Linked DNA regions of Homo sapiens: region 1 is linked to region 2. The links come from fine-mapping of genetic effects on plasma protein levels. A gene starts in region 2. The other region holds a variant in brackets. All regions are shown on one strand. Distances are from middle to middle.

Region 1 (8,330 bases), 140 kb before region 2:
CTGCAGTGTACCCTATGTCCAGCCTTGGCCTTGATGGTGCCCCCAGTGTGTAGTTCTGAGCCTGTGACAGTACGATGTGCCTGGCTCGTGACAGTGCCTGGTACCTGGCCCATGAAGCACCCTAGTGCCCAGCCCAGGCTCCTTTGTGAACCCCCTCTCACGCCTCCCTGGAGGTGTGGAAACTGAGGCACTGAGAGGGAGATAACTAGTTCTTGTAGTATGTGATGTGATTGAGGTGGAACTGGAGGTTTCTTTTTTCCCTCAGGGTCTGTATTTTCTTTACTTTTCTTTTTTTTTTTTTTTCCAGACAGGGTCTCATTCTGTCACCACGCTGGAGTGTGATGGTGGTGAGATCATAGCTCACTGCAGCCTCCACCTCCCAGGCTCAAGCAATCCTCCTACCTTAGCCTCCCGAGTAGCTAGGACCACAGGTGTGCACCATCATGCCTGGCTAATTTTTTTTAATTTTTTGAGAGACAAGGTCTCACTGTGCTGCCCTGGTCTCAAGCTCCAGGGATTACAGGCATGAGCCACTATGCCCAGCCCAAGGTCTGTATTTTCAAAGGAAAGAGCTCCTGGGTTGAGGAAATCTAGGTATGTTTAACCTGGCAGGGTGGCTTCCTAAGAGGAAGCCACTTGCAGACTTGGGTCTTCACAAATCAGCAGAATGAATGACATCTGGGGACACCTCGTCACCACTCCCCCGAGGTCTCCCTTCCCAAGGATCCCAGGCTCCTCACACTGTCCATGCAGGAAGCTCCTGCTCCACCCTGCAGCCAGTGCTGCCAAGGACACGGAGTGACGAGGTTGTTCACACACTGCTGGGGAGATAAACTGACATGACCACTATAAATGACTGTTTGGAATCATTTAGCAGAGCAGAAAGTGTGCCTACCCCACAACCCACAGTTCTACTCCTGGCTTCATGCCCTAGAAACTGCACAGATGCAGCAGGACAGGTGCAAGAGACTGTTCACTAGCAGTGCTGCTGGGAAGGGTCCCAGCTGGAAACTACCCAACTGCCATCCAAGGTGCAACAGCTACGCGGAATCTTCAGCGGCAGTGAGAATGGATGAGCTGCTGCTACACCTAGCTGGAAGGTGACGCTCATAACCCTATTCTGAGTGAGACAATTCAGATACAAAAGTCAGATACAGTCTGTGTACTGTATGAAATTAAAAAACAGGCAAAACAAACTAATTTTAGAGCTATATGGTAGAAAATCAAGGAAATTATTATCTGTACAATCAAATTCCCTCCAGGGGGAAAGACATAGAAAGGGAAAGAGGGAGAAAGAAAAGAGAAACTTCAGAGAAGAGAAACGCTATCACTCTTCTGCCTTTGCAGAAAATAATTCTTTGGGGGAAACAACCAATCAATAAAACAAAACAGGATAACTGAATAAAGATCAGGCATATCTGTTATCACAACCAATGTGAATGCATAGAATTCTACTTTTAAAATAAAAAGATCTTCATGTTGGGTAGAAAAAAACCCATCCACATACTACTTATTAAAGACACACCAAAAACAAAGTGGCATAAATAAGGTGAAAGTAAAAAGATGTGGCTGGGCTTGGTGGCTCACACCTGCAATCCCAGAACTTTGGGAGGCTGGGGTGGGTGGATGGCTTGAGCCCAGGAGTTCGACACCAGCCTAGCCAACATAGTGAGACCTCGTCTTTAGAAAAAATTTAAAAAATTAGCCAGGTGTGGTGGCATGCACCTGTGGTCCCAGCTACCCGGGAGGCTGAGATTGTGGTGAGCTGAGATCACGCCACTGCACTCCAGACTGGGCAACAGAATGAGACCCTGTCTCAAAAAATATTAATTTTAAAAATTAGAAATTAATTAAATTTTTAAAAGATAGGCAAAAATATATTTATATGCAAGCAAAAGTGGCAATGGCAATGTGAATCTCTAAAAATGATTCAAGACAAATTATTTAAACAGAAAAAGAAAGCTATTTTGTGTTGAAAAAGGCACAAATTGCAATATGTAACATCATAAAGTTCTGTCCATCAATAAAATAACATCAAACATATGAAACAAAATCAATCAGCAACACATGAGAAGCTGGAAAATCTCTCTTGCAGTGGGAGAGTCTTCTCCAACTCACTCTGTCCTTGAGAGACGGAATAGCTATAAACTACTAATAAAATAATACTAATAATTAGAGCAATACGTTATTTAAAAACCTTACTGGGTGTGCCCAAGGCAAATTCATAACCTTAAAGATATTTAGTATTGAATAACAGAGAATGAAAATAAATGACCTAAATACTCAAATCTAAAAACTATAAAAAGTGGAAAATAAACCAGAGGAAAATCTGAAGGAAAAAAAGTACAAAATATAAAATTGTACCTCAATCAATTAGAAGAACTGCCAAAATTAAGAATGAACTCTGATCTGGATCTTTGAAAAAACAAGTAATGTTACATAGGACAAAAGGCATGTTTTATATTGATAGGGTGTAACCCACTAAGATAATACAGCAGGCATGAACCCTGTATTCCTAACAACACAGCTTTGAAACATAGAAAGCAAGAATTGTGCAAGAAGAAATAGGCAAATTCTTAAGTTTTGCAGTAAACTTCTTAGAAATCAACAAATTATGCAGCCGTAAAATATGTCAGGTGTTGAGATAATTTGAATAACACAATCAACAAGCCTGATCCAATCAGTTATGGCTCAAACTTCGTTCTAAAACACACACTTTTAACTATTTTAGGTTCAGGAGTACATGTGCAGGTTTGTTACTTAGGTAAACTTGTGTCACAGGGGTTTGTTGTACAGATTATTTCATCACCCAGATACTATGCCTTGTATCCAACAATTATTTTTTCTGCTCCTCTCCCTCCTCCTTTGCATCACTAAAACCAAGGAGGCTCCAGGAACAATGCTGCTGTTGTTCCCCTCTATGTGTCCATGTGTTCTCATCATTTAGCTCCCACTTAGAAGTGAGAACATGTGGTATCTGGTTTTCTGTTCCTGCATTAGTTTGCTAAGGATAATGGCCTCCAGCTCCAACCATTTTCCCGCAAAAGACGTATCTCTTTCTTTTTTATGGCTGCATAGTATTCCATGGTGTTTGTGTAACACATTTTCTTTATCCAGTGTCATTGATAGGCCTTTAGGTTGATTCCATGTCTTGGCTATTGTGAATAGTGCTGCAATGAACACTTGTGAAAACACACACTTTCATTTCAGACGCACAACACTCACTAAGACTAACCAAATACTAAGCCACAAATAAAACCTCAAAAAATTCAAAAATGCAGAAATAATTAAATTCATACACAGTCGTGCATCACTTAATGACAGGGATACAGTATGAGAAATGCATTGTTAGGCAATTTCATCACCATGCAAACATAAGACTGTGCTTACACACGCCTAGATGGTACATATATATTTTTATGTATATGTATTTTTTCATCAGGAAAACCAAATGTCCCAGCACCATTAGTGAATGTCAGTCATTCCCTTACTTGTCTGCAATGCCACTATCAACTACCATATATCAGGTTTCTATATATGCTCCATTATAATCTTATGGGACCACTCTTGTATATGTGGTCTGTAATCGACTGAAATGTCATTATGTGGCATATGACTGTAGTGATATAGAGAAAAAGAAGCCCTCATTCCTCCCAAGAACTACCCATCAGGAAATTAAATAACACCCTTCTATATAACTCTTGGACTAAATAAGAAATATACTGTGAAATTATAAACAATACAGAAATGAATGACAATGAGGCCAGTACGTATCAAATCCTGTGAAATATGGCTAAAGTGGGACTCAGAGGAAAATTTATGGAATTAACTGAAAATACTAGAACACAAAGAACTCTAAAATAATGAACTAAGCCCACTACTCAAGAGGTTACAAAAAGAGCAATAAAATAATCACATGGAGGCATCCACTTCTCATTTTGGTATATTTTCTTCTACATTTTTTTCTTAAAAAAGAAGATTATGAGATATATATATATATCTAGATATATATATCTTTGAAATATATATATATATTTGAAGGCAAATTCATAACCTTAAAGATATTTATTATTGAATAACAGAGAATGAAAATAAATGACCTAAATACTCAAATCTAAAAACTATAAAGAGTAGAAAATAAACCAGAGGAAAATCTGAAGGAAAAAAAGTACAAAATATAAAATTGTACCTTAATCAATTAGAAGAACTGCCAAAATTAAGAATGAACTCTGATCTGGATCTTTGAAAAAACAAGTAATGTTACATAGGACAAAAGGCATGTTTTATATTGATAGGGTGTAACCCACTATATATATCTAGATATATGTATCTATATATACAGATATATAGACATATATGTAGATATATATCTCTCTAGAGATATATGTAGATATATATCTCTCTAGAGATATATGTAGATATATATCTCTCTAGAGATATATGTAGATATATATCTCTCTAGAGATATATGTAGATATATATCTCTCTAGAGATATATGTAGATATATATCTCTCGAGAGATATATGTAGATATATATCTCTCTAGAGATATATGTAGATATATATCTCTCTAGAGATATATATAGATATATGTAGATATATATCTCTAGAGATATATATAGATATATATCTGTATAGCTCTAGAGATATATATAGATTTTTTTTTTTTTTTGAGACAGAGTCTCACTCTGTCACCCAGGCTGGAATGCAGTGGCGCAATCTCGGCTCACTGCAAGCTCCGCCTCCCAGGTTCAAGCCATTCTCCTGCCTCAGCCTCCCGAGTAACTGGGACTACAGGTGCCCACCACCACGCCCAGCTAATTTTTTGTATTTTTTAGTAGAGACGGGGTTTCACCATATTAGCCAGGATGGTCTCGATCTCCTGACCTCGTGATCCACCCGCCTCAGCCTCCCAAAGTGCTGGGATTACAGGCATGAGCCACCACGCCTGGCCTATGAGCAATAATTTTTAAGAAAAAAATGTAGAAGAAGATATA[C/G]CAAAATGAGAAGCGGATGCCTCCATGTGGTGGGACTCCAGGGGACGTCTATTTTCTTTAGGCTCGACTATGTTTTCTAATTTTCTACAATAAACATGCACTACTTTTATAATTGGTTTAAAAAAAAAGAAAGCTGCTTTTGGAGTACTATTGTGAGTCACTCCTACTGCAGCCTAAAAGCCTGCATGTTTCAACTGTTCCCTTAACAGCATGCCCACTTTACAGACAAGGAAACTGAGGTCACAGGCCCAGACTTTTTCCTTAAACCCCAGCACTAATGATACAGCAAAAACCAGCAGTCCCCACTCCAGACAGCCTCCTGGCAGACTTAATTCCAGGAAGCTCTGCCATCCCACCCACGGCCAACCCCCAGGACTACCCCAGAAAAGAGAAAAGAGTCAGCTCAAGTTTGCACATGTTTAATCCCTGCTCTCCTGGTCCCAGATTCCAGAATCCTTCTAGGCCACACTTCCCTTCTCCTGCTCACCCAAGGCCTAGTCATCCACCACACTTCTCCTCACCGGGATGCCAAAGCCAGACCCATTCTCCCAGGGGTTACTCTTCCCCACCCTGACTCTTTTTGAAGATGGACACATGACCTTGGTCAAACCATCTGGCCCCATTCAGCAGAGGCAAGGCAGGAGGAGGAAAAGGTAGGGAGGTCAGGAGCCCATCTGGGGCTGCAGCAGCCAGCACAGGAACAGGAGGCAGGCAGAGGCACAGGGACCTGAGAAGGCTCCATTGCTCATTTGCTTCTTGATCCATTTGGTGTATTTGGTGATGCGGGTGTACACACCTGGATTCTGTGCCTTCACGCAGGCCTTTTCCCAGGACAACACCCCAGCCAGAATCCATCTGCCCTCAACTTCACAAGCCAATGGCCCTCCAGAATCCCCCTAGGCAAAAAGAGAGGAGTGATGGAGGCTGTGGGTCCAGCTGGGCCTGCTGGGCCCTGTGGACCCATGCCCACCCTCTGAGCTCTGCTGGGAGGGTTTTCACTCCTCCAGGACCTCACTACTTGGGGTCCTCTTTTGGCTCCTCAGTTGGGACCCACACCCCAGAATCAGGGCAAAAGTCAGCATCACAGGGGAAGGAAGACAGGAGCAGAGCACTACTGGGTGATGGTAACGGAGGGAGGCCGGGCCAACCCCGCCCCAGGGAACTGCCTCCACCCAGGAGTGGTTCCCAGCAGAAGCAGAGCTACCAGAACCTCCCAGAAACTCACATAGCACAAGTTTTCCCCATAATTGGTGGCACAGATCATGTCCCCCAGGACAAGGGGGACAACTGGGGGGAAGAAGGACTTCTTGTAATGCCGGTCACACCTCTTGTTGTCCATGATAAACACCTCAGCCTCCTGCAGCTCTGGGGTCAGCATGGAGTTGGCTGTGGAGCCTAGCAGGGTGAGCAGTGACCTCTCACTCCACCCAACCCTGACCTCTGTCCAGGGTCCTGTCCCCTTCACCCTGGAGACTCAGCCCAGCCACCGCCTGTCATACCTCCAAGCCCTCCCCTCCTTCACCGGCCCCTCCCCCTGCAGTGCAGGCCTTGTCTGAAAAGCCCCCGCCCTCGAAGGCTCTGAGTCCAGATCCCCTTCTTGGGAAACTTCTGCTTCTGAACCAAACCAGCCATAACTCAAGTCTCAGTGCAGCCGCTTCCAATCTGGGGCCCAGCCCCGCGCTGCTTCCCTGCAGACTCTCAGCTCTGCTGGCACGGCCGCTCTCCCCACCTTCGTTAACACTCGCTCCTCCTCCAGGGCCTCAAGGCAGTCCCTCTGCCCAGAGCTCATTCCAGATCCCTCCCAGCTGGATCTCAAGACCACCAGACAAGAACTTTGCCTTGTTCTCCTCAGCCTGTGCCCACACCCACACCCAATCATGACTTCCCTCCAGGCAGGGCATGCATTTCTAATCCCAAGGGCTGGGTGCCGACACTCAAAGTGTGTCAAGTGAAGGAATGAGTGAATGCCCAGCTCTGAGCTTCTATAAGACACAGATGGTCATGCCCAGCCCAGGCACTACCAGGCCTGAATGAGGTGTCCACATAAACAGTGACAATGGTCACCACATGAGGAGTGGTCAACACATTCAGAGAACCAGGTCCAGCAGGAAAGGCCCCAGAAGGAAAGGAGTGTGCTCTCGGTGGTACTGCACCCACCCCCCATCCCATCCTGCTCATCTGAAAAGCGCTGCTTAACCTGGCTCCAGCCAGTCACCCAACACTGCGTCCCAACCTTCAGGTTGAAATTGGGCTCCGGGAGGCAGATGGGCTGCACGTACTCACTGAAGGTGACAGGTGTTTGAAGGTGGACAAGGGCAACGTCACCCATGATGAAGGCCCGGCCCCAGTACTTGGGGTGCATAATGATGTCCCTCACAGGGACCCAGAGGGCCCTGCTGAAGTTCATGGGCTGCAGCTTGGAGGTGCCAAGCACCACTGAGTACTCTTTGGTGCTGTGGGAAACAGAGAGCCCCACCTGGTAGGTATCAGACTCCCAAGCAGGAACACACTCCTACCTCCCCGTGGCCCTACCCCTTTAGCAAGAGTCCTGCCTCCACCCAATCTGCCTAATCCAGCCTGAGGGCACTGAAGATCTCAGAGCTGACTGCCTCCTCATTCATCATTCAAATTGATTCAAGGTGGCCTGGTCTGTGTGTTGTGCGTGCAGGTGTGGAAGTGTTGGTGTACACATATGCTCTCATGCGTGATGGGGTAGGGGGCGTGTTCTGGGTTTTCCTGTTGCTCAGCTTAGGGTGCAGTCTTTGTTGCTAGGGGCTCCCGCCCTAGCTCAGTCCCTGGCCCCCAGGAGACCCCGAGCACAATTCTCACTTATCCCAGATGCCCTTCCCACTCCCTACCTCCCTCCCACACTGTTTCACTCAGGAAATGAGGAAGCTGGGCTGGGCCCATGGTAGCTTGAGGTCTCCAAGCCCTGCACACATGGGCCATACTCACCCTTGGATGCAGTGGGCCGCAGTCACCACCCAGCTGGGGTCAATGAGGGCCCCTCCACACACGTGCTCATTTTCCATCCGGAGGCTCACCTCCCAGGGCCAATGGCGGGTCATTTCCAAATCCTCCGACCACCAGGGCTCACCACAAACTTCAGGAAGAAGTGTGCCAGGGAGACACAGGAACCACATAGAGGAGGATGAGAAAGACTGAGACCTAGATGCCCTACAGGGCCAATTTGCACAAAGCTGTAAACTCGGGGCCTCTTCCCATTTCAGAGATGGGGAGAGTGAGGGTGAGAGAAGGGCAGTGGCCTGCCCAAAAGCACTGAGCTTGACGGAAAGTGACAGTGACAGAGGTAAAAAGCATCAAGGCAGAGAC
Region 2 (8,330 bases):
AGCTCATTGCCTTGCCCCAGCCAGTGTCCCCTGAGGCATTTAGAGTGAGAGGAAACTGAGGCCCAGAGATTTGGCAAGGCACGACAAAGGACCACCCACATAGAGGGTTCCTCCAGGCCTAACAGGGCAGGAGTGTCAGGACTAGGGGTTCTCCACTCGAGGGCTCCCGGCCACAGCCCCCGGCAAGGACCCAGTGTCTGAGCTAACCCCCTCCCCACCACCTCCTCCTTCCTGGCCCCCTCCTCCCTTCAAACCGCAGGGCCCAGCCGGCCTCTGGAACGCGTGCCCGGGACCTCGGTGATATTTTGAGTTTAAGAAAACTTTGCAGTCGGCAGGAGCTCTTAAAGGTTATAAATAGCAGCAGCGGGAGCCCATGCAGGGAGAGGCGGAAACACGTGTCAAACACGCCTGGGAGGGGGTATTCCGAGGCACAGACCCCCCCCCACACACACAATAGGGACGCACTAGGCTTCTGGGGATTTTACAACCACTGGAGCGGGAAATCACACTCTACCCAGAAGGCGTCTGGGAAACAGGACCCGCTTTGGACCCCCAACCAGTGTCCCCAGTGGCTGGCCAGGTTGCCCGGGCATGTGGGGGCACTGATGAAAGGGGATCTGGTGGGGAGGCCTTTCTCCTACCCCACTCCCCGCCACCATGCCACCAGGGATCTCCCTCAGAGCTGCCCTTGGGAACAGCAGGGCTGGGGGTGGGTTTGGAGAGAGTCCACTCTAACCCGTCTGTGGCAGGGAGAACTGAAGACCTGAGTGGGGACAGAATTGTTACCAGGTCATGGGAAAGCTGGACAAGATTTGGACCCCCAAGCCACAGTTCTTCCCATTGAACACTGTTGCTGCCTCCCTTCCATTTCCAGGGACCACGGGACGGTGCTCTAACTCACCCAAAGAAAGCACAGAGATGGGCACAAAGGTAACAACACGCAACACTGAGGGATGCAGACCTGAGGGCCCCATCCCTCAGCATCCAATCCCAGTGCTTCCCCTTCCGGTGAAGACCTCCTGCTGAACAGATGAGGAACAGACCAGAGACTTGCCCTACTCCAGTGGGATGCAAGCCCATGCCCACACTGCCAGGGAGTGGACTGTCAACAACCCAAGGCCAGGTATGCAGCCTCAGCAAGGACATCAGCTCCGCTTTGGACACAGCAGTCTCAGCCTTGCCTTGAGGGTCATGCAATTTGAGGACATGCCCTCAGGAGCCTAGTCTGAGGAGACACCCTTCTGGGGCCTGATCTAAGAGAAATCAGTTTTGATGGCCTCGTGGCCATGGAAGGAACCCTTCAACCTCCACCACCTCCCTGGATTTCCCAACTGCTCCACAATGTGCATGGGGCAAGAACTGTTACGACGCTGCAAATACCTGGAAACTCAGGCGAGTCTCAGGCTCCCACCCACCATCCCACTTATGCCTCACTCATGCCCCACCTGCTGCCCACAGCTCCCAGCAGGTCTGGGGGCGGCATCCAGCCTTGGCATCCAGGCGTTCTGAACCTCAGGGAGCCCCAAAGGGTTTATGGGTCTCCCAATGAATGGGAGCCTGTTGAGCTCGGAGGGGGCCGGGCCCGAGTAAACATGGCTGGGTCTGAGCTGCCATTCTCCCCCTACCTCTTCCCCAGAACCCAGGACCAAAATACAACTTCCTGTCCCCGGAGCTGAGGGCCAGACTTGCCCCCCAGAGCCCTGGGCTGGGGCCCACAGGAGGAACGCAAACTGGCAGGCCCAAGGCTCGAGGAGAGAAAGGCCTTCAGGTTTTCAGACTCCCAGGTCTGCTTGCATCCAAGACCCAAGTGCCTGGGCACTTTACAGATCCCCTTTGAGCCTGAAACTGCCCAACTGTTAACAACAGATCAGGAAACTGAGGCCATGAGCAGGAAGGCGTCTGGCTCAGGGATCCACAGGTCAAAGCAGAAAAGGCCCCAGCCTCCTGCTTCCCTGGCCAGTGAGGATGGGGCCTGTGGGCAGGGTAGGGCAGTGCATGTGGACTCAGGGGAGGTAGAGGCTCTGGCAGTCAAGAGCCAGGGCAACAGGGAGGCTTGACAGAGCACAGGGGAACTCTCCCTCCTTTGGGCACAACTGCCCACTGACCTCCGCTGGCCTGGTCACAGAATAGCCTACGTGTCCCAGGATACCCCTTGGAGCAGTGCACTTCAGAGTAGCTGGGGCAGGAGTCCCATAAGTGCTGTTTGTCATAGTTTCACTATGTCCCCTGGCCAGTCCATTCTGCTCTTTGGTCCCGTTTCCTCCACCTGGAGGCCAGGTATCACCGAGCCTGCCTCCCTGACTAACTTGTGAAACAAAAAGTACTTTGGAAACTCTAATGAGTGGTACCCTCCCCAGGAGCCTGGAAGACCCAGGGAGGGGGGCCCTAGGAATGTGCCCAATGGCTGGGGGTGGTTGGGGCCAGCTGCCTCACATGCAGGGCACTGGGGGCTACAGCTGGAATGTGCTGAGTGGCAGCTGCCACGTGAATCATTATACCTCATCAGGCTGAGCCTAGGACTTCCAGACACAAACCAGCTCAGACTGGGCTCAGGCAGAAGGGCAGCCTCCAGCCGGGTCACAGGGCCTGGGGGTGAGGTTTCTGGGATCTTGCAGGGTCTCTGCCTCCCTGTCTGCCCACATCTTCATCCTGAGCAACCAGCCCTGGTTCTGAACACAGCTCGTTCTACAGACCCACAGAGAGAAGTCATCCTGTCCACAGCCCCCTGCCTTTGAGACCTGTGACAGCTTAAGCAGACCCTGGGCCTGGAAGGGCCTGGGAGGCAGATAGGGAGGGCTTCCTGGCTGACTCCTCACCAGGAGCCCACATTCCAGTGGGCAAGGAGTCAGATATGAGGTGGCTGTGGGGCTGTAGGGGTCAGGACACGGGCTGGAGTGGAATGACGGCCCCCTCCATCTCTTCCGTCTAGGAGCCACTGGGTACCCAGTGCTGGCAGATCAGGCTTTCTTGGGCCTCAGTTTTCCTGCCTGTGACACAGGCAAGAACCACCTCCAGCCCCCCTCTGATTTCTCTGGGTGCCTTAAACTTGAGTGAAGTCACTAGTAGGGGCTGTGTTCATACCTCGTGGCAGCCTGATATTCCTGAGATGTGGAAAGGACCAGAGGGTTAGACAGGGACACAGAGACTAAGAGAGAGGCATGGCAGGGCAAGGAGAGGACTATTGAGGCACACACACGTGTCTGGCAGCCTGAGTGGGCCCAGTTACCTGGCAGGCAGACCCATGGGTGCTGAGGGGAGGGCCCAGCCCTGGGCATCTGAACACCGGCACACTTGGATCTGCCTCTGTTGCCTCCTACTCCTGACTAGGAGCCTGGGACAAAGTCCTGGGCCAGTGTAGGGCTTGGTAAAAAATAATTAATTTTCTTTTCAAGTGGAAGCTCTGACTCAGGTCTTTTCTTGTCCCCAGCAGCACTATCCTTGCTTAGGCCTGAGCCACAGAAGCTGCTCAGGGACTATCCATGGCCTCCCCGTGGCCAACTTGAGTCTGCTCTGCAGCTTTAGGCCCGACTTGGAAGGCCCATGGGCTGCAGGTGAGTGGGGGCCAGGGGAGCCTAGGGGCCTGAGCACAGCTGGGAAGCCCAAGTCTGTGGTTTCCCTGGGGGTGAGTGTCTAAATACCTGGGCCGTGCTATGGGGCAGACAAGACATGCCCGCATGGAGACACATCTGTGGACCTGGTGTTATGACAGCAGGGGGCTTGTAACCATGAGGCCAGCAGGGACAGAAAGCCCATACCTCTAGCTCCTTGGGAGCCTTAGGAGTGCTCCCTGGTTGGGACAGAGCCTGCTGGCCCCAGGTGCCCCCATCGCCCCTCCCTTCACCTTCCTGAGAGGCAAGAAAGCCAGGCAGCCATGCTTCTGCTGCAAGGGAAGGGGGCTACCCAGCCAGCTGCCATGGGAGCCTCCAGCGACTCAGCTGGGTGTCAGGGGGTGTTTATGAGCAGCCGAAATGGCTGTAAAAGTGGCACCTCGCTTCACTTATGGCCTAGCCATCCCCTCCCCTACTGGGCTCTTGCCTCAAAAAGTTTCCAGAGGGGCCTAGAAGCCGAGAGAGGTCTGGGGTTGAGGGCTGGGTGGAGGCACAACCTGGGGTCAGAGTTCAGCCAGGGGCTAGAAATCAGACTGGGATAAGAACTCAGCCTGAGGCTGGGGCTCATGATGGAGATAGAGCTCAGTCTGGGATCAGGGCTAAGCTTGGATGCAGCCTGACTTTGGGGCTAGTGTTGGGATGAAGCACTGGGGAAATATAAGGACTCAGAAATAGATGTGAGCCATTAGTCCCAGAGAACCCCTGGTCTGGCCAAGGGGTTTTCTGAGGGAGGAAGGCCAGGCTGCATTGCTCAGACAGCTGAGCCTCTTGCCTTGCTTGTTGGTGTCTGATGCCCACCCTGGCCCCAGGGTCTGTGTACCTTGGCCAGAGCCCTACTCACGGTGGGATGGCTGCAGCAGAGGCCTGTCAGCCTGGGGCTGCCACACCAGCAGGGGTGGGGCCAGAGTCTGGCCCCTACTGCAGTTCTGAGATCCAGTGACCACCCTGGCTCCTCCTCCTAGGCCCCAGCCTGGGGATTAGAGACAGGGACTCACTCCTACTCCCCACCCCCAGCCAGGCCTTTTCAAACCCCATTGAAACTAACACTGACCTGACACTAACCAGAAACTGACTCTGAGCCCCTGGGGCGTGCTTGTCAAAAAGGGCAAGCTGACTCTGCCAGGTGCTTGGGTGCTACCAGTTAATGTGTGACACCCCCACCCTCATGGTAGCACTTTAACCAGAGGCCCGAGGGTGAGAGAGATGATCTGTGGCCCCACCCACAGCTGTGGAATGTCCAGCAGGGGACTCTGGGGTGAGGCACATGAGTTATGGCAGGAGGAATGCCCTTAAGGGACCCAGCACCCATCAGATTCCTCTCTGCAGCCCTCTCCACAGCCCACCCTCATCCTCCCAAGTACAAGTAGTATGTTTCCAAATCTCAAGTTTTCCCTGGTGTCAGATCTGAAAAGAACTCCTCCCCTCAGCCTCTAGTTTTATCTCTCAGTCCTTCCAATCCCTCCATTAATGTTCTTTTCTCATCACCAAGGGGGAAAGCAGGGTGGAAGATCAGTGGTCACAGAACCATAAAACTTAGAGACACTTAGAAACAGAGGCATAGGCCAGGTGCGGTGGTTCATGCCTGTAATCCCAGCACTTTGGGAGGCCGAGGCAGGAGGACTGCTTGAGCCCAAGAGTTGGAGACCAGTCTAGGCAACAAAGTGAGACCTCGTCTCTACAAAAAAAAAATTTTTTAATTACCCAGGTGTGGTAGCTCATGCCTGTGGTGCCAGCTACATGAGAGGCTGAGGTGAGAGGATTGCTTGAGCCCAGGAGGTCAAGGCTGCTGTGAGCCATGACCGTGCCACTGCACTCCAGCCTGGGTGACACAGCAAGACCCTGTCTGGGGAAAAAAAAAATGCTGCGTGTGGTGGCTCACGCTTGTAATCTCAACACTTTGGGAGGCCGAGACAGGATCACTTGAGGCCAGGAGTTTGAAACCAGCCTGGCCAACATGGAGAAACCCCATCTCCACTACAAATGCAAAAATTAGCCAGGCGTGGTGGTGCACAACTATAATGCCAGCTACTCAGGAGGCTGAGGCCAGAGAATTGCTTGAACCCGGGAGGTGGAGGTTGCAGTCAGCCGAGATCGCACCACTGCACTCCAGCCTGGCCAACAGCCCTGTCTCAAAAAAGAAAAGAAACAGAGGCATAATAAAGCTGAGACCATTAAAATATAACACTGAAGAACCACAAGTGTTCTTTAGGTGCCCATTCTGGCACCTGGGCCTCCGTCCCAAGGAGGCTACATACCATAGGAGGCAGCCCTGAAATCACAACCTCCCTCCCCAGTAACGGAGGATGTGGGCACACAAGGAGGGAGGGGAGTGTCCTTTACACCAGGCAGAAGAGTATGATCCTGGCAGAGGAAGCAGCAAGGACAAAGGCAGGAGAGTGGATGTGTGAAGAAGACCAGGAGTCTAGCAGACAGTTCCTGTTAGGGAGAGTCATTTTTGGAGGAAACTGTCTCAAATAGCACAGCCCTTGAACACCAGAAAAAGAAATGAGGGCAGTGGGCACAGAGAAGGGAGGCAGCCATAGAAATGCATGGGGAGGGCCAAGGCTGGTGGTTCATACCTGTAATCCCAGCACTTTGGGAGGCTGAGGCAGGTGGATCACTTGAGGTCAGGGGTTCGTGACCAGCCTGGTCAACATGGTGAAACCCCGTCTCTACCAAGAAATGCAAAAATTAGCCAGGTTGGTGGTACACACCTGTAGTCCCAGCTACTTGGGAGAATCACTTGAGCCTGGGAAGCGGAGGTTGCAGTGAGCAGAGATCATGCCACTGGACTCCAGCCTGGGTGACAAAGTGAGACTTTGTCTTGAAGAAGAAGAAGAAGGAGAAGGAGAAGAAAGAAGAAGAAAGTAGCAGCAGAAGAAATACATGGGGAATGCACCTGGGAGTGCAGTCTGGAAGCTGGATGGGCTTGAGCCAGCAGAAGGGTGGCTGCAGCTGGATCCTAGGCCTTAGGACTTGGGCTTGACAGATTTGCACTGAGGGTTGGAGGGCAGGTTTGCAGGCTCCGAGGAGCTCAATATCCACAGGCTGAGTCTTGAGAGCCCCTGGAGCCCATGGGCCAGGATGCCCACCCTCGTGGAAACTAAACAGTAAAGTTAACATTGCCCTTGAATCAGCTGGCCAACCTCTCCATTTTGCAGATGAGGAAACTGAGGTCCAGACAGCCGAAGAGTGGTAGTGTCCAGGACACACAACTGGTAAGCGGGCAAGCACAGGCTGTTGCTTAGCCCAGACTCATTTCCCAGGGCCTCATGCATTCGCTTCCTCCGCGATCCTTAAAGCCCTGCGCTCCAGGCATCCCCAGCCCCTCCCTCTGCCTCAGTTTCCCCACTTGGTACCGGGAGGTGGTAGGTTTGGGGTCGAAGGGCCCCTCCTCTTAGAGCTCCAGCGTGCCCTCCCCAGCCAAACACAGAAATCCCGCCCCGTTCAGCCCCAACCCCCGCGGACTCCTCCTTGCCTTCCCCTAAGTCGAGGGTCCCAGGCGGCCCGGTCCGAGCCGGCCGATAGCTTTTGGGAGTGGGGGTGGGAACGGGGGAGGGAGGTGAAGCCTGAGAGTGGGTGTCTGGATTGAGCCCCAGGTCTGGCAGCCTCGAGCCTCCGGGGTTGGGGCTGGGCAAGCTGGAGAGGCCCGGCCAGCAGCTGAATGGGTCGAGACTCGGAGACCCGGACCCGAAGAGACGCTGGGCAGGGAGGGAGCGGGATGTGTGGCTGCAGACCTGGGCGGGGGTCGGGGCTGGCCTAGGGCCGAGAGGAACGACAGGCCTGGGATGGGACTGAGGGCAGGGGACGAGGCGAGGGTGGGGCTGGACGTGGGGGAGGGCGGCAGCAGCCAAGCCGGGCTCGGGGCTGGCAGCCGAGCGGCCTCCCCAGGGACCCCGACCCGGCCCGAACGGGAGCCCAGTGGACTGACAGCGTCGCGGCCGGGGGCGCGCGGGGGTACCGGGCAGCCTCCTCAGGGGATTCGCCCATGATGAAAGAGGGCTCGCTTCTCGGCTCAGGGTCTCTATTCGCCAGCGGGGGCCGGATGATCAAGGGAAAAAAAATTTAAAAGCCCGTGCTTTCCAGAAGAGAATGAAGCGGCGGCGGCGTCCCGGGTTCCCTGCTCGGGTCTCGATGTTACAGCTGCCCCCGCCCCGTCTCCCCAGCACTCACATCCCGCCGCCGTAAGACTCCGGGCCTCGGCCTCTAGCGCAATGTCCCGGGGCGGGGGGCGGAAGGCTCCTCTCGGCCTCTCCACACTCCCGCGTCGGCGGCTGCGGAGGGGGTGGGGGCGGGAGAGGCCCGGGAGGGCGCGGGGGAGGGAAGAGGCGCCCGGCCGGGGAGAAGGGGAGCGGCAGACGCCGAGGCGAGGGATGCGCGCGGCGGGCGGTGGCTCCGAGCGGCGGCCGGGCGGGGGGCGCTGGAGGCCAGGCCGGCCAGCGGGGGGTATCCCGAGAGCTCCATGAAGTCCCCCCGGGGCCGCGGACGGGGCGCTGGCTTGGGGAGGCTGTCGGGGGGGCCCCGACATCCATGGCAAGGCGGGGGCCGCGGCGGCGCGCTCGGAGTAAGTCGGGGCTGGGGACCCGCGCCGAGGGGAAGTGGCCGGAGTCGGGGAGGAGCGACTCCGGGCCTGGCCGGAGCAGCCAGGCTGCTCTGTCTCGGTGTCAGTCGGCGGCGCCTCCTCGGAACCCGGGGGAGTCGCCAGCCCCGCGCCGCTCGGCT

Alleles and levels. Alleles are on the strand shown, and positions count from the first base shown. The strength of an association depends on the size of the effect and on how common the allele is.
As copies of G replace C in region 1, the plasma level of the protein whose gene starts at base 3,429 in region 2 goes down (weak association).

What was found. PIP is the posterior inclusion probability: the model's chance that the variant is causal. Protein levels are from antibody-based Olink assays in UK Biobank. Linkage for the fine-mapping came from a reference panel and not from the study's own genotypes, which makes the PIPs less certain.
Region 1: its variant is fine-mapped to the plasma level of the PTH1R protein (UK Biobank, PIP above 0.99).

What each region holds. Positions count from the first base shown.
Region 1 is chr3:46,736,691-46,745,020 of GRCh38, forward strand. It overlaps the pseudogene PRSS45P. Among named protein-coding and RNA genes, the nearest start is that of PRSS50, 23 kb to the left of the region's middle. The variant C/G (reference allele first, on the strand shown) is at 4,998.
Region 2 is chr3:46,874,293-46,882,622 of GRCh38, forward strand. PTH1R (parathyroid hormone 1 receptor) reads left to right here and starts at 3,429. Exons shown (of 16, transcript NM_000316.3): 1 at 3,429-3,551; 2 at 6,770-6,826. It also overlaps a transcript of MYL3 not described here.